Linked DNA regions of Homo sapiens. The protein of the gene in region 2 purifies or fractionates together with the protein of the main gene of each other region. This does not show direct contact. Each region holds a gene or a part of one and is shown on either strand. Other genes may lie near its edges.

Region 1 (7,037 bases), on a different chromosome or scaffold from region 2:
TGAAGATCTATGCATTTCAACAAATCCCACAACTCAGTTTAAAAAAATGATTTAGGCTGGGCACAATGGCTCACAACTCTAATGTCAGCACTTAGGGAGGCTGAGGTGGGAGGATTGCTTGAGACTGGGAGTTTAAGACCAGCTTGGGCAACATAGTGAGACCCTGTCTCTACAAAAAAATTTTGGTTTTTTTGTTTTTTTTTTTGAGACGGAGTCTTACTCTGTCACCCAGGCTAGAGTGCAGTGGCACCATCTCAGCTCACTGCAATATCTGCCTCCCAAGTTCAAGCGATTCTCCTGCCTCAGCCTCCCAAGTAGCTGGGACCACAAATGTGTGCCACCATGCTTGGCTAAATTTTGTATTTTTAGTAGAGACGGGGTTCCACCATGTTGGCCAGGCTGGTCTTGAACTCCTGACCTCAAGTGATCCACCCACCTCGGCCTCCCAAAGTGTTGGGATTATAGGTGTGAGCCATCATGCCCGGCCTAAAAAATTTTTATTAATTGGCCAGTCATGGTGGCGCGTGCCTATAGTCCCAGCTACTTGGGAGGTAGAGATAGGAGGATTGCTTGAGTCCAGGAGTTTGAAGTTACAGTGAGCTATGAATGTACCACTGCACTCTAGCCTGGGTGACAGAGCGAGACTGTGTTTCTTAAAAAAAAAAAAAAAAATTATGCGTATGTTTTTCGGAGTTCCTAAACACACGTCTGTATATGACCCAGAATAATGGCAATCCTGTCATGTGGGCTCTGTGCTGTCCTGGTGCACTCAGCCTACAGCTGCCATGCCAGGCACTATTACTGCTAAGAATATATGTGTGTGCATGTATGTATATATGTGTGTGCACGTATTATATGTGTGTGTATGTATATGTGTGTGCATGCATGTGTGTATATGTGTGTGTATGTGTGCGTATGCATGTGTGCGTGCATGTATGTGTTGTGCATGTATGTATATGCGTACATGTGTATGCATGCATATGTGTGTGTGTATGTATATATGTGTGCATGTGTGTATACGATGTATGTATGCATGTATGTATATATGTGTGCATGTATTTTATGCGTGCATGTATGCATATATGTATGCATGTTATGTATATGTGTGCGTGTATTTTTTTCTATGAAAAATTGGTCAGTTTTGGGAAGACATTTTAGCATGACCTTTCTTCTGATCCAGTTGATTAAAAGTCTTACTTGCGGTAGCAGTTGGCTATATTAATTCAGCACTTTTATTTCTGAAGATCTAAAACCCAGCATTCTCTCCCTTTTCTCCCACCAACAATGTTCCTGTAAAGTGGAGGGAAAGAAAATGAGTGACCCTTCTCATTTGATCGTTAGGAACCAGGTGGTGAGAGAACTAATGGAGATGCTTGACAAAGACAAGAACAGATCCTGCATTGCTTGATGGGACAATAAAGTTTCCCATAGGCTGGCTGGAGAAGACTCACTTCTCAGCATCTTGGTGTTTTTTCTTTGTTTGTTTGTTTTGATTGTTTTGAGATGGAGTCTCGCTCTGTTGCGAGGCTGGAGTGCAGTGGTATGATCTCGGCTCACTGTAACCTCCACCTCCTGGTTTCAAGCGATTCTCCTGCCTCAGCCTCCTGAGTAGCTGGAACTACAGGCACGTGCCACCACGCCTGGCTAATTTTTGTATTTTTAGTAGAGACAAGGTTTCGCCATCTTGGCCACGATGGTCTCAATCTCTTGACCTTGTGATCTACCCGCCTCGGCCTCCCAAAGTGCTGGGATTACAGGCGTGAGCCACCGCACCTGGCCAGCATCTTGGTTTTTAATCATTGCCTGGGGGAGCTCCTGCACAGCGTTGCTGCACACCCATTCGCCCCAAATTGTCTTTTTCTTGTTTGTGGCGGGGCAGTTTTGAGACAGTCTCGCTCTGTCGCCCAGGCTGAGTGCAGTGGCTCGATCTCGGCTCACTGCAACCTCTGCCTCGCGGGTTCAAGTGATTCTTGTTCCTCAGCCTCCTGAGTAGCTGGGATTACAGGCAGTGCACCACCATGCCCAGCTAATTTTTTGTATTTTTATTAGAAGTGGGGTTTCGCTATATTGGTCAGGCTGATCTCGAACTCCTCGAGGTGATCCCCCTGCCTCAGCCTCCCAAAGTGCTGGGATTACAGGCGTGAGCCACTGTGCCCGGCCCCCAAATTGTTAAAGACCAGACAAGCTGGGCATTTTGTGTGGTTGTGGATGGAAAGGGCAAATTGATCTTTACTCTCAAAGTGAATTTTATTTGTCTTTTCCTTGATTTTTCAAACAGGATGTAGGCTATCCGGAATTCCTCAACATACGTCCGTATATGTCCCAGAATAATGGTGATCCTGTCATGTATGGACTCTATGCTGTCCTGGTGCACTCGGGCTACAGCTGCCATGCCGGGCACTATTACTGCTACGTGAAGGTGAGAGGCTTGTGTCAGTGCAGCTGCCTCCTGGGACAGGTTTCAGCACCCATGCACATCCAGATGCGGCCTCTGTAGAGCACTTACTTTGTGAAAAGTGTGATGTTTTGTGGTTGTATTCAAGTCCTCGTTGTTGCCTCTCTGCGTGGAGTGAAAAGATGCCCTTTACAGAAGTGTTGCACCAGAATCTAGTGTTCTCAGACTTGCAGGGAGACACGGAAGAGGCAGCCGCTTCTGGTGCCATCCTTAGAACCCTGGCAAAATCGGCCATGGTGATGACACTGCCTGAATGTCCTTTAGAAGGGACAGTTCCTATCTGTTGGGGCACTAGGAAGGAACTGGGACGCAGAGCACACTTTGGGGTCACATTCCGAGTTATGAAAATATTACACGTTTTAATAGAAGTTGTTACCTGTTGATTATTAATAGTGTTTGGAAATGTAGCAACTAACAGATTTTTTATTCCCTTTTTAAAAAGTGAGGATAATGGGATGCTTGTTGATTGTTTTGTTTTCTGCAACATCCTTGGCTGCTTCAGGCAAGCAATGGACAGTGGTACCAGATGAATGATTCCTTGGTCCATTCCAGCAACGTCAAGGTGGTTCTGAACCAGCAGGCCTACGTGCTGTTCTATCTGCGGTAATAAACTCACGCCCTCCCCAGATGAGCTCACTCCCTCTGCTCTTTTCTTATACCGGTGGGCCTCCCTAACCTTTTTTTGTTTGAAGGTAATTGGGAATTCCACTGGAGGGATTTGTCATGTGTCATAGAGACCGTCCACAGGGAAGGACACTTTTTAGTAAAGCCAGAGCCTTGGGAAGGTCAGGACAGGATCCCATCTGCCCTCACATTGATGCTGTTTTGAATGTAAACAGGAAAGTCACCATTTATAGTATTGCCCCAAATTAGAGGTACTGCTCCCTGGATGGTAGCCAGCCAATGCCCCTTCCCGTGTGGGGAAGCTGCCCCTGTAGGGATATGCTGGGAAGGACGTGTTTGTGGGGGTGCTGCTGCAGAGCTTCTCTGGAGGGGCCTTCTCCTGGAGCTGGCTGTCACTGACCTGGAGGCTGGAGACCGTGGCAGCTGAGGCATTTTTGCTGCTTTGTACGTCTCTGCAGAGTGTGGCTGAGGTGTTTGAGGTTCTTGCTTTCTGGTGCATTGAACTCTGATCTTGGAGGAATTCTGACTCTAATTTGCCCTTGCTCTGCTTATATTCAGCAGATACTTGGGGCTGATCTCTCAGCCTCACTGTGGTTGAAAGGCAAAGGGAGATTCCAGAGAAGTGGTTAGGACTGGCAGGGTTTCCCCAGGCCGTGTTTCTGCCTTTGCCCCGCCTTAACTTATTCTAATTCTCTCCGTTTCTGTAATGCCTAGTAAGAGAATTCCCTACTTGTTTTCTTCCTTTGACAGAATTCCAGGCTCTAAGAAAAGTCCCGAGGGCCTCATCTCCAGGACAGGCTCCTCCTCCCTTCCCGGCCGCCCGAGTGTGATTCCAGATCACTCCAAGAAGAACATCGGCAATGGGATTATTTCCTCCCCACTGACTGGAAAGGTATTTGTGAGAATGATGGAGGCCAAAGTGGCTGGTCTTGGTGCTCCTCACAGACCTCCTCACACTTGGGAAGTTGGCCACAGTGGAAGGAATTTGCAGGCAGTTTGCACTATTCTAGTTGATGTTATTTCTTTTCTTTTCTTTTTTTTTTTTTTTTTTTTTCGAGACAGAGTCTCGCTCTGTCATCCAGGCTGGGGTGCAGTGGTGCGATCTCCAATCTCGGCTCACTGCAAGCTCTGCCTCCCGGGTTCCCGCCATTCTCCTGCCTCAGCCTCCCTAGTAGCTGGGATTATAGGTGCCCGAACCACGCCCGGCTAATTTTTTTTGTATTTTTAGTAGAGACGGGGTTTCACCGTGTTAGCCAGGATGCTTTCGATCTCCTGACCTCAGGATCTGCCCGCCTCGGCCTCCCAAAGTGCTGGGATTACAGGCATGAGCCACCGCGCCCGGCCAATGTTATTTCTTAAACTGGTCATCAGCTGACATTGGCTATAGAGAAAGAGGAGACATGAATGAGAAAATTCTGACCCAACAAATTAGAATTGTCATTCACAGATCTGTTCTACTCATGAGACCAGCACCACTTACAGGTGTCGTGACAGGTGTGCCAAGCAAACTTTCTGTGTGCACTCCTTTTATTTCCTTTATAATGCCAAGCAAACTTTTTTTTTTGGAGACAGGGTCTCACTCTGTTACCCAGACTGGAGTACAGTGGCACAATCATGGTTCAGGGCAGGCTTGAGCTCCTGGATTCAAGCCACCCTCCTGCCCCAGCATCCCTAGTATTCGGGACTATCAGTGCACTACCACACCCAGCTAATTTTTAAATTTTGTGTAGAGACAGGGTCTCACTATGTTGCCCTGGCTGGTCTTAAGCTCCTCAGCCCAAGCAATTCTCCTGTCTTGGCCTCTCAGAGTGCCAGGATTACAGGCACCAAGCAAACTCTTAACCGTAAGCGTGTAGGAAAAAATATCCTTTTTTTTTTTTCTTTGAGACGGAGTCTCATTCTGTCGCCCAGGCTGGAGTGCAGTGGCGCAACCTTGGCTCGCTGCAACCTCCACCTCCCAGGTTCAAGCGATTCTCCTGCCTCAGCCTCCCGAGTAGCTGGGACTACAGGCGTGTGCCACCATGCATGGCTAATTTTTTTATTTTTAGTGGAGACGGGGTTTCACTTTATTAGCCAGGATGGTCTCTATCTGCTGACCTCCTGATCCACCCGCCTCAGCCTCCCAAAGTGCTGGGATTACAGACGTGAGCCACTGTGCCCGGCCTGTTCTCACATTTAACGGGGAAAATGTGAGTAGTTTGTACCAATGTTAATTTCCTGATTTGGGTAATTCTGCTGTGGTTATGTAAGAGAGTGTCTTTGTTCTTTGGAAATACACATGGACATATTTTGGGGTAAAAGAACATCATGTCTGCAATTTACTCAAATGGATCAGAAATAGAAATATGTGTATATGCATACGTACATAGTCATACATATATACACACGTACATATACATACAGAGAGAGGATGATAAAGGTTATGTGGTTACAGGTTAACCATTAGGAACTACCCTCTAAGTTACCTTTGTGTGTATTTGAAATTTTCTGCTAGAACTGTTAAGAATTCAGTTTCACTAAGTGGATTCATGAGCAGTTTCCTCATTAGAACACAGTGATCATTTGAAGTGGGGTGGACCCTCTTGATGACTGTTTCTTTTTTTTTTTTTTTTTTTTTTTTTGAGACAGAGTCTCGCTCTGTCACTGAGGCTGGAGTGCAGTGGCGCCATCTCAGCTCACTGCAGCCTCTGCCACTATGCAGCCTCCGCCTCTTGGGTTCAAGCGATTCTCCTGCCTCTGCCTCCTGAGTAGCTGTAATTACAGGTGCCCGCCAGCACTCCCGGCTAATTTTTGTAGTTTTAGTAGAGATGGGGTTTCACCATGTTGGCCAGGCTGGTCTGGAACTCCTGACCTCAAGTGATTCGCTCAGCTTGACCTCCCAGAGTCCTGGGATACAGGCATGAGCCACCGTGCCCGGCCTGGATGACTGTTTTTGATGGATCGTCTTCCTCTCCCTTTAGAATGAAGAGTTGAACCCCACACACAGGCAGTCAGGGCCTTTCACAGTCTGCAGGGGTTTTGGTCATTTACGTACATCTGTATTTCTCTTCACATTAAAGAAAATAGAAGCTGAAATTAGAAGCATTAGAATTGAAGTGGCAGTAAAATACATGATATAATTGCAAAGTTGGTGGTCACTGTAGCCCAGACTAGGAAGTTAGGAAGCAGCCTGGGCCTGGGACTGTGACTCATGTCTGTAATTCCAACACTTTGGGAAGCCGATGTGGGAAGATCAGTGGATCCCAGGAGTTCGAGACCAACCTGGGCAAAACCCTGTCTCTACTAAAAATGCAAAAGCTAGCCAGGTTTAATGGCACGTGCCTGTATTCCCAGCTACTCAGGAGGCTGAGGTGGGAGGATCACTTGAGCCAGGGAGATTAAGGCTGGAGTGAGTCATGATCATACCACTCCACACCAGCCTGGGCAACAGAGCAAGACCCTGTCTCAAAACAAATTTAAAAAGTAGCCTGGGCAACATAGATCCCATCAGCACAGAGAATATTCAGTAAGCTGTTGGGGGAGGATCACTTGAACCCGGGAGGTTGAGGCTGTATGCAGTGAGCCATGATCACGCTGGTGAATTCCAGGCAAGGTGACAGAGTGAGACCTTGTCTACAAAAAAAAGAAGAGGGGGGCCGGGCACTTTGGGAGGCTGAGGTGGGTGGACCATTTGAGGTCAGGAGTTTGAGACCAGCTTGCCAATATGGTGAGACCCTGTCTCTACTAAAAATACAAAAGTTAGCTGGGCATGGTGGCGTGCGCCTGTAATCCCAGCTATTCGAGAGGCCGAGGTAGGAGAATCGCTTGAACCCGGGAGGTGGAGGTTGCAGTGAGCTGAGATTGTGCCACTGCACTCCAGCCTGGGTGACAGAGCGGGACTCCATCTCAAAAAAAGGAAGCAGCCTGGGCAACATAGAAAGACCCCCATCTCCAAAACCCCATCTCCAAAAAAAGTGCA
Region 2 (7,037 bases):
CGATCATGGCTCACTGCAGCCTCGACCCGCAAGTAGAGTCAACTTAAATGTTTATTCTTGGTTCTCTATTTATATTTAAGAGTAAGGCATTAGGCCAGGTAGAGTGGCTCATGCCTATAATCCCACCACTTTGGGAGGATGAGGCAGGCAGATCGCTTGAGCTCAGGAGTTCTAGACGAGCCTGGGCAATATGGCAAAACTCCATCTCTACAAAAGATAGAAAAAAATTAGCAAGGCATAGTGGTGCACACTTATGGTTCCAGCTACCCAGGAGGCTGAGGCAGGAGGATTGCTTGAGCCCAGGAGACAGAGGCCGCAGAGAGCTGTGATTGTGTCGCTGTACTTCAGCCTGGTTGACAAGGGAAGACCCTGTTTCAAAAAAAAAAAGAGTAAGGCATTAAAAAGCTGATAGGTTCTTTTTTTTCTCCATGGAGTGGCCTTGTTGACTGATAGACTTCATTGTAAGGTGATTAAATAGGGACTCTAATTTAATTTAATTTTTTTTTTTTTTTTGAGACAGAGTCTTGCTCTATTGCCCAGGTTGGAGTGGAGTGGCCTGATTTAGGCTCACTGCAATCTCCGCCTCCTGGGTTCAAGCAATTCTCCTGCTTCAGCCTCCCAAGTAGCTGGGAGTACAGGCAAGCACCACCAGACCTGGTTAATTTTTGTATTTTGAGTAGAGTTGGGGTTTCACCATGTTGGCCAAGCTGGTCTCAAACTCCTGACCTCAAGTGATCTGCCCACCTCAGCCTCCCAGAGTTCTGGGATTACAGGCATGAGCCACTGTGCCTGACTGGGACCCAAATTTTTTGTTGGGAGGACATCCTGTAGATACCAGTGTCTGTAGGTCTTTTTTCTTGGGCTTGTGAGTTTCCCCAGAAGAGAATCTTTCAATCTCTAGCTCTAGGGGTATAGAATCCTGGCTGCTAGAGTTCTGGGAACTCAGTGGGAATAGTAGACTGGGCATCTCACTATTGAATACTTAGATTTTCAATTAATCATTCTGGGAATACTGTTATTATCTCTAAATCCAGGATCCCTTTCAAGTCTGAAGATTACAGATACTTTCAAACATGTGACATTTCAAAAAATCCAAAAGCCACTTTCATAGGCCCTGGATTTCTTTGAGAGTAGAGAAGTTGTGTGCCCACCCTGAATGAGGGAGGGGATGGAGAAGTGTGGCTGCTTTGGCAGACTATCTGCTGGTCCTTGTTTTCAGCCCTATCTTAAGAGGGATCTACCACCAATTCCCAGTGATTCCCAATGAATCTCTGTGATTCATTGTCATTATTATTGCTGGATCTTTAGTTTTTCTATCTTTACAACCACTTAGCTTTTATATTTTGTAATGGGCCAAGTTTGATACTACTTTTAAGCATCTAGTATTTTGTTTAACATCACTTTAGTTTTTGTTGTCTCATCTCCATCTCATTCTCTGGTTCAGTATGTTTGGTTCTATTGGTTTAAAAGTGTTAATGTCCACTGCTGTCATTCTAGTGGAGTTGGTGAGGGAACGGGGTTAGCATGTATGTTCAGTCCACCATCTTTAATCGGAAGCCTCCATTCGTTTGTAGGCCCTCTTCTTGATAGCAAGCTCTGCCTTTTTGAGACTTTCACCCTGTAGTCGTAACTTTCAAGGTTGCTTTTTTTCTTTTGTTATTTATTTTTGGCAGTGGAAATGCAGATGTATTATGCAAAGAAAAGGGGGGGTGAGTTGTGGGATTGTCCAGTTGATGAACCTGTTCATATTCTTTTTCCCGAAGATGTTTTATCAATAGATGGCATTGTTCTAAATCAGTGACTAACAAGCTGTTTTTCTTCTTTTGTTTCTTTTTTTTTTTTTTGAGACTGGAGTCTCTGTCACCCAGGCTATAGTGCAGTGCATGATCTTGGTTCCCTGCAACTTCGGCCTCCCAGGTTCAAGCGATTCTCCTGCCTCAGCCTCCCAAGTAGCTGGGATTACAGGCTTGCGCCACCATGCCTGGCTAATTTTTGTATTTTTAGTAGAGACAGGGTTTCATCATGTTGGCCAGGCTGGTCTCGAACCCCTGACCTCAGGTGATCCGCTCTCCTTGGCCTCCCAAAGTGCTGGGATTACAGGCGTGAGCCACTGTGCCGAGCCTTCTTTTATTTCTTGACCTACATACTTTTAACCTTAACACATACAAGGATAATTTCACTTGCATGACTGAGGAAATGACTCACCTCTGATTTATTAATAAGCATATGTATCCAGCTTACTCAGATTATGTAGGTGGTGTGTATCTAGGCTTCAGATCAAGTTGTATCAACAGTTTTGCACTGTATTCTTGATATTAACAAAGTAATACAACCTACTTGTCCAAAGGGATATATATGACTGCATGTATGTGCTGTGTATTCTCTCTTTGAACAGTTGCACACTGACAAGAAACAGATCAGTGTTGGGTTCATTGGCTATCCAAATGTTGGCAAGAGCTCTGTGATAAATACATTGCGTTCTAAGAAAGTTTGCAACGTGGCTCCCATTGCAGGTGAAACAAAGGTACGTTGGGCGCAGGGTGACCTTACTTTTGCATATTTTCTTTTCATAGAGAGTGATTGTTTAGGACTTGTTGATTTCTCTCTGCTTCTCTTGAATGCAGACCACCACTAGGAGTTTAGCTCACCATATAATAGTTTGGAACGTATCAGAGTTGTTTCTGCCCACTTTGATAAGACTGAGAGTATTTTATATGCCCCCGTGTGGCTTTGGCCTGTGTTAGTTAATGTGATTCATATTTAGATCTGTTTTAAATTATCACTCCAGCCTTTTATTTTGATAAACAAAACTAACCCAAGAATATTTGATGCCTGGGTTAAGAAGCCTCAAACTTAAGGTAGGTTCTGAAAGTTGGGGGTCATATCCTAGAACACATAGTGGGGAACAGCATGGTTTTGCTTAAAGGCAATGAGGTCAAGCAGTACTAAGCTCTCAAGAGTACTTCTAAAACTCAGGAAAGGTTCACCGGGTATAATTGCACAATACGAGATGGAAATCCTGTCTCTGTGTTGTTTTTAGACTCTTAGCTGATGGAAACTATAGTTTACACTTAGTGGAAGTATCTTGTGCACGGCACAGATGAGAGAGTTAGTAGCTTAATTACTTAGCGCGTTGCTTTTCTTTGACTCACCCCTTCCTCCTTTCCAGCTTCATACATGAGCATCAGGGGTTTGTGAAATTAGACTCTTAGTGTTTGATACAGGACATCTCTGACTTTTTTCTGACTTCAGGTCTGGCAGTATATTACTTTGATGCGTCGGATATTCCTGATTGACTGTCCAGGTGTGGTTTACCCCTCTGAGGACTCCGAGACAGACATTGTGCTAAAAGGAGTTGTGAGTATTTGGCCCTGATAGGCTGTTTGTGTTTGCGGGGGAGTGTTCTATAGGGAACCCTGGATACCTTTCCTTTTTACTTATTAAGAAGGCAGTTTGGGGTCAGCCTGTCTGACCAAACTTTAGGAACATGATGCTGAACAGCAGCCTCTCAGCATAAGCTGTTTGAGGAATTAGTGGAACCATGGGCATATCTGGTCAATATCATCCCACAAAAGAGTTTGTAGTTTACACACAGGATCCAAAGGGAAGCAGGGCCTGTTTATGCTTAGCGATAATTCGTCTTCGTGGGTTTATGGGTTGAGTCATTTTGGAACCCAGTCATTTCCTCACTTGTTTCTGAATACGACTGAAAAACTGTAAATGGTTCCACTTAACCTTGACCATGCTTCTGGCTATACATCCTGTACACATTCCTCCTCTCCTTTCTTAAACTATTCCATTATTTTTGTGTCCTGGGATGGGCAGGCTTTTAACCATTTCTGCAAGTGAGTAACATGAAGCATTCCAAGTTTAAACTGTGGCAGCCACACAGTTAGTTTGTGGTGAGTGGGGATTAAAGCTGAGTTCTGGGCTCCGTGGCTATGGTCAGCTTTCAGCAGTGCTCCTTGCAGCTGACCATGTCTAGCCCCGTCAGAGACAGGCTCCTGCCAATCTCCACGAGCTTTGTGATGTTGAAGTCTATTTTCAAATAGTGCTGCAAAGGACACTGGGAACTTCACTGCTTCCACAACAAAGTTTGTAAGTGAGAGATTTCCTATTAACATTTAGGTTCAAGTAGAAAAAATTAAGAGTCCTGAAGACCACATTGGTGCTGTACTTGAACGAGCAAAGCCAGAATATATCAGCAAAACATACAAGATTGATTCTTGGGAGAATGCTGAGGACTTTCTTGAGAAGCTCGCTTTCCGGACTGGGAAGTTACTAAAGGTGACCCGGCGTTTGTGAGAATTTAGACTGATACTTGTCACAAGCATGTATGTATATGATATGGGCCTTTTTTTGGTATGCATGTATGAGCAGTGTGAAACTTGTCACTTAAGTGATGATGAACCCCTGGGACAACTGAAATACCCCCAAAGTGGTAGGTGGTTTTGGTCCTTTGAATTTAATTGGGAATCTCTTTGTGACCTTTCAGGGTGGAGAGCCCGACTTGCAGACTGTGGGTAAGATGGTCCTCAATGACTGGCAGAGGGGCCGGATTCCTTTCTTTGTCAAGCCACCCAATGCAGAGCCACTTGTGGCCCCCCAGGTAAGAGCAGGGTGGGCCCACCTCTGGGGAGCATGGGTCCTGACCTAGATTTGGTGTAGCTTGTGATTGTCTCTCTTCATAGAGCGTGTATTCATTCAGCTGCGGTGTCTCTCATTTTATTATTTTTTTAAATATATAAAAATATTTTTGGGGCCGGGCATGGGTGGCTCACGCCTGTAATCCCAGCACTTTGGGAGGCCGAGGTAGGTGGATCACAAGGTCAGGAGTTCAAGACCAGCCTGACCAATATGGTGAAACCCTGTCTCTACTAAAAATACAAAAATTAACCTAGCATGATGGCACGCTCCTGTAGTCCCAGCTACTCGGGAGGCTGAGGCAAGAGAATTGCTTGAACCCAGGAGACAAGTTGCAGTGAGCCGAGATCGTGCCACTGCACTCTAGCCTGGGCAATAGAGGGAGACTCCATCTCAAAAAAATAAAAAAAAATTTTTTTGAGGGTGAAGCACTGTTGGGAGCCACTGCTGGCCCATGGCGATCACTCCACCCTCTCTCATTCTAGAGTGCCAGTGCCATGGCCTTGCTAGGGGGTGCATTTGGAGACTAATAAGTAGACATATGAGAGAAGACCAAACTTAGATACTAGCCTTTAGGGCCTTGGAAAAAGAGGGCTCATTAAATGTAAGTGATCTTCTGGTACCTGTATCTTTTCTTATGCTTACGAAACAGAATCATTGCTAAGATAACATTTGTTTAACAAACATTTATTAGCATCGACTATGTGCCAGGCACAGGGAATATAGGAACGAAAAACAGCCCTGGCCCTCAAAAAACCTGTGATCCAGTGGGAAAGGAGAGTGGTACTACTGATAGTCGGAGAAAGAAGACTGAAGGCTGGGGCCAGAAGCTCTCCTACTATCCCCATTTCCCTCACCCTGGCAGTGGGCCGCCACAAGGCTCAACGTTAACGTTTTGCCTTTCTGGTTCTAGGACCTTTTTCAGAACCCAGCCAAGTCTCTTGAAATGGTGGCTTCAAATTGTGCATCTATGCTTGCTAGTGTCGTTGGGTCCATACAGTGCTGGTTTCCTCTCACCTGACCCCATTCCAAGTTGCAGTTGCAGCTAGGTATTTTCAGTTGAATGTATTCTGCAGCATTTGAAAGTTAGCCTGAAACTGATGTTAATTGACATTCTCCCTTCTCCCTGCCCAAACCATCAAACAACCAAACAAAAATTTCTCTCCCTCTTCATGTGTATTGCATCTTTCATTCATTAATTCACTGATACATTCACCCAGCAATCCCATATTGAGTGTCTCCTGTTGGCCACAGACTCTTCTGGGTACTGGTGGTGCTGTGGTGAGAAACTGACAAGCTGCTGCTCTCCTGCACATATATTCCAGCAGGGGAGTGTGTGGTTTCTTCTGACACCAAATACATAATTTTTTTCCATATCAGTTCTGCAGTTCTCAGATACCAGCTGAGTGTCCCAACAATTTAATTCAGTTGTGACACTAACTCCCGGAGTTAGCACAGACCCCACAAGTTAAGGACTAGGTCCCCTGCTTCAGATGGCAGCTTCAGGCTATCCACACTTACGCCCGGCTAACTACAAATTCAGGGGTTCTGGGGTTTGATAATTTGCCAGAAGGACTCCCAGAACCCAGGAAAGTGCTGTGTTTACAATTAACGGTTTATGATAAAGGATGAAACTCAGTCACAGCCAGTGGAAGAGGTGCACAGGGTAAGGTATGGGGGAGAGGCACAGAGCTTCCATGCCCTCTCCACACATTGATGTGTTCAGCAACCCAGAGCTTTCCAAACCCCATCATGTAGGGGTTTTTATGGAGGTTTCATTACATAGACATGACTGATGAAATCTGTGGCAGTTGGTGATAGACTCAATTTCTGGTCTCCCTTCTCTCCTCTGAGTGGCTGAAAGCACCAACCATGTGGTCAAGTGCTTTGTCTTTCTGGTGACCAGCGCATCCCCCATCCTGAAGCTATCTAGGGGTCTACCATGAGTCACCACATTAGCATAAACTCAGGTGTGGTGGAAAGGGGCTTGTAATCAATAAAAAAGATACCCATCGCTTGGGAAATTCCAAGGGTCTTAGGAGCTCTGTGCCAGGAAGTGTGACATTTATATCACAGGGAGACAGTAGGCAGATAAACATATAATGTCAGGAAGTCTTGCGTGCTGTGAGGAAAACTAAACCAGGCTAAGGGGTTTGGGGGAGATGAGGAGTACTTTGGGGTGGTCGGGGAAGGCCTCTGAGGCAGTGGCACTTCAGCAGAGCCCTTAATATGAGACAGGAGCCATGCTAGTATCTAGGGAGAATGTTCCAGGCAAGGGGAACAGCACATCCAGAGCAGCTGGGGCAGGAGTATGCTCTGTGTGTCCTGATGCTGAAAGGAGGTCACTGTGGCTGGAATGTCGTGGGCCAGGAGAGGGTGTCATGGTGGGAAGC
Region 3 (3,188 bases), on a different chromosome or scaffold from region 2:
AGTAGCTGAGACTACAGGCGTGCACCACCACATCCAACTCATTTTTCCATCTACTTTTTGTAGACATGGAGACTCGCCGTGTTGCCCAGGCTGGTTTTGAACTCCTGGGCTCAGGCAGTCCCACCACTTCAGCCTCTGGAGTAGCTAAAACTGCAGGTGCGAGCTGGAAGCAGCATTTCTAGCCAGTGCCACAGTCCACGAACAGTGTGTGTATCCCCCAAAGCCCCCACTTCCCCAAACTTTGCCATGAGTCTACTGGACTATGCTCTCTTCCTCCCCTTCCAGGTGAACCTGAACACCATCAAGCGCTGCCTCCTCATCGACTACAACCCCGACTCCCAGGAGCTGGACTTCCGCCACTAGTGAGTGTCCCAGCAGGATGGGAGACGAGGGGGTGCCGGGTGGGGGCCTCCACATGCGGCTGATGACAGCACTTCTGCTGAGACGCTGTGATTGCTCTGTCCAAAGTAAACGCCCTGACGCACTGTGGGAAGGGTGAGATGGGCACCGCCAGCCCCATCACGTGCCCCCTGACCACCCCCTTGCCGTCCACTCATGTTCCTGCAGTAGCATCAAAGTTGTTCCTGTGGGCGCGAGTCGCGGGATGAAGAAGCTGCTCCAGGAGAAGTTCCCCAACATGAGCCGCCTGCAGGACATCAGCGAGCTGCTGGCCACGTGAGGAGGGCATAGGGCGGGAGGCCACTGCGGCCCGGGGACCCCAGAACAGGACCGGGAGCCTGAGCTCCCCCACTGAGCCCTGTTATGTCCTACACACAGGGGCGCGGGGCTGTCGGAGAGCGAGGCAGAGCCTGACGGCGACCACAACATCACAGAGCTGCCTCAGGCTGTCGCTGGCCGTGGCAACATGCGGGCCCAGCAGAGTGCAGTGCGGCTCACCGAGGTGAGGCCCAGGGCAGGGGGACCCCCGGGCTCCACCAGTCCCAACGGTGGGCTGACGCTTCTTCCTCGTCCCCTCAGATCGGCCCGCGGATGACACTGCAGCTCATCAAGGTCCAGGAGGGCGTCGGGGAGGGCAAAGTGATGTTCCACAGTTTTGGTGAGGCCGGGGCCGCCGGGGGTGGGGGGTCATGGGTGTGGAGCTGCACCCGGATCTTGGTGACCCGCGTCTCTTGGCTCAGTGAGCAAGACGGAGGAGGAGCTGCAGGCCATCCTGGAAGCCAAGGAGAAGAAGCTGCGGCTGAAGGCGCAGAGGCAGGCCCAGCAGGCCCAGAATGTGCAGCGCAAGCAGGAGCAGCGGGAGGCCCACAGGTCCAGGCAGAGCTGGGAAGGGCAGGGCCAAGGGGGGGTCCCTGGGATGGGCGGCTATGTTGACCCCCACGCCCTCCTCCAGAAAGAAGAGCCTGGAGGGCATGAAGAAGGCACGGGTCGGGGGTAGTGATGAAGAGGCCTCTGGGATCCCTTCAAGGACGGCGAGCCTGGAGTTGGGTGAGGACGATGATGAACAGGAAGATGATGACATCGAGTATTTCTGCCAGGCGGTGGGCGAGGCGCCCAGTGAGGGTATGGAGTGGGGTCTGCAGCAGGGCACCCAGAGCCTGTCCTTGTCTCTGGGGGCCCTGACACTGTCTCTCCCCACAGACCTGTTCCCCGAGGCCAAGCAGAAACGGCTTGCCAAGTCTCCAGGGCGGAAGCGGAAGCGGTGGGAAATGGATCGAGGCAGGGGTCGCCTTTGTGACCAGAAGTTTCCCAAGACCAAGGACAAGTCCCAGGGAGCCCAGGCCAGGCGGGGGCCCAGAGGGGCTTCCCGGGATGGTGGGCGAGGCCGGGGCCGGGGCCGCCCAGGGAAGAGAGTGGCCTGAGCCCAAGCCGCACCGGAGCAGCGGCTGGATTGAACGCCCCAGATTGGGGCCCGAGATGTGGCCCTCGGTTTCCTTTCATAAAGGAGTTGTGTCCCCAGCCCTTCCACTCCAGTAAAGAACTGAATTGGCCAGGGGTCCACGTCAGCGTTTGGGATGGGGGATTCTGGAGCCATACAAAGCAACCCAGAGAGTCCTGGGCCGGCCACACCCGAGAGTCCCTCCCACCTGGTTTCTTCCTGGAAGCTGGGTCTCTCCCCTACCCTGCACGGGGTTGGTTTCATTGGTGGCAGCAGCAGCCATGAGTGGCCCCTCCCCCCAGTCCCACCAAAGAGCCGTGCAAGCAGACAGGTCACACTTTCAGCAGATGAGCTTGAACCTCAGGAGGGTTGTGGCACAATGAGGAAGGAAACGTGGGTGGAAAGGCACGCTGGCCTGCTCTGCTGGCTGGGCCAGTAACTGGGGATGGGGCTGGGGCAGGGCCCACTAAGCCACTGGTGACTGGGGGAGGGGCTGGGGAACTGGGTAGCAGACACAGGCTGAGGATCGGCACGGGAGCATGGCAGCCAACGTCTCGGGTAAGGAGAAGGCATGTTGGCTGTCTCTGGGGGTCTGCAGATTGTCAGGAGGTGGGGGTAGTGGGTATTGGTAAAACACCTAGGTCTGGGGCTGGGCACGGTGGCTCACGCCTGTAATCCCAGCACTTTGGGAGGTCGAGGGGGGTGGAACACGAGGTCAGGGGTTCGAGACCACCCTGACCAACAAGGAGAAACCCCGTCTCTACTAAAAATAAAAAAATTAGCTGGGCCTGGTGGCACATGCCTGTAATCCCAGCTACTCGGGAGGCTGAGACAAGAGAATCACTTAAACCCGGGAGGCGGAGGTTGCCATGAGCCGAGATTGCACCATTGCACTCCAGCTTGGGCAATGAGCGAAACTCCATCTCAAAAAAAAAAAGCCTAGGTCAAGGCTGGGTGTGGTGATGCGAGCCTGTGATTCCAGCTACTCGGGAGGCTGAGGCAGGGGGATCACTTGACCCCAGGAGGTCGAGACTGCACTGAGCTGTGATTGCACCACTGCACCTCAGCCTCGGTGACAGTGAAATCCTGTCTCCAAAAAAAAGCCACGTCTAGACGACACTTCCTCCTTAAGCAGGCTGGCGTTGGGAGCAGGGAGGCGCCTCCGGAGAAGCCTGTCCCCAGCCTGCAGAGGCAGGGGTGGGGTGCACAAGGAGTGAGTGCCCCTGTGCTGCTGTGCCCTGGGCACTGTGGTGAGCACTGGCACCAGTAATGGGTAAGCAGGCCCCCCCATCCTCCCGAAGGAGGGAGATTTTTCTCACCGTCATCAGGTGGCGCAGGGTATGGGGGAAAA

Evidence for each region. The genes of interacting proteins can lie anywhere in the genome.
Region 1: the proteins of GNL2 (region 2) and USP36 purify together in Homo sapiens (affinity purification with mass spectrometry; 3 studies listed by BioGRID and IntAct, with this or other methods). This does not show direct contact.
Region 3: the proteins of GNL2 (region 2) and PPAN purify together in Homo sapiens (affinity purification with mass spectrometry; 3 studies listed by BioGRID). This does not show direct contact.

Annotation. Positions count from the first base shown.
Region 1 is NC_000017.11:78,809,794-78,816,830, reverse strand, and holds part of USP36 (ubiquitin carboxyl-terminal hydrolase 36), read left to right. Parts: intron 1-2,278; coding exon 2,279-2,419; intron 2,420-2,957; coding exon 2,958-3,058; intron 3,059-3,829; coding exon 3,830-3,971; intron 3,972-7,037. UniProt on the Homo sapiens protein: Deubiquitinase essential for the regulation of nucleolar structure and function. Required for cell and organism viability.
Region 2 is NC_000001.11:37,571,915-37,578,951, reverse strand, and holds part of GNL2 (nucleolar GTP-binding protein 2), read left to right. Parts: intron 1-2,395; coding exon 2,396-2,524; intron 2,525-3,252; coding exon 3,253-3,357; intron 3,358-4,128; coding exon 4,129-4,287; intron 4,288-4,495; coding exon 4,496-4,609; intron 4,610-7,037. UniProt on the Homo sapiens protein: GTPase that associates with pre-60S ribosomal subunits in the nucleolus and is required for their nuclear export and maturation.
Region 3 is NC_000019.10:10,109,346-10,112,533, forward strand, and holds the end of PPAN (suppressor of SWI4 1 homolog), read left to right. Parts: intron 1-285; coding exon 286-362; intron 363-403; exon of another isoform or gene 404-495; intron 496-567; coding exon 568-675; intron 676-777; coding exon 778-901; intron 902-978; coding exon 979-1,057; intron 1,058-1,139; coding exon 1,140-1,269; intron 1,270-1,351; coding exon 1,352-1,521; intron 1,522-1,599; coding exon 1,600-1,820; 3' UTR 1,821-2,376; coding exon of another isoform or gene 2,377-2,395; 3' UTR 2,396-2,667; downstream 2,668-3,188. Other genes in the region: PPAN-P2RY11 protein, read left to right, coding at 286-362, 568-675, 778-901, 979-1,057, 1,140-1,269, 1,352-1,521, 1,600-1,677; P2RY11 (P2Y purinoceptor 11), read left to right, coding at 2,377-2,395. UniProt on the Homo sapiens protein: May have a role in cell growth.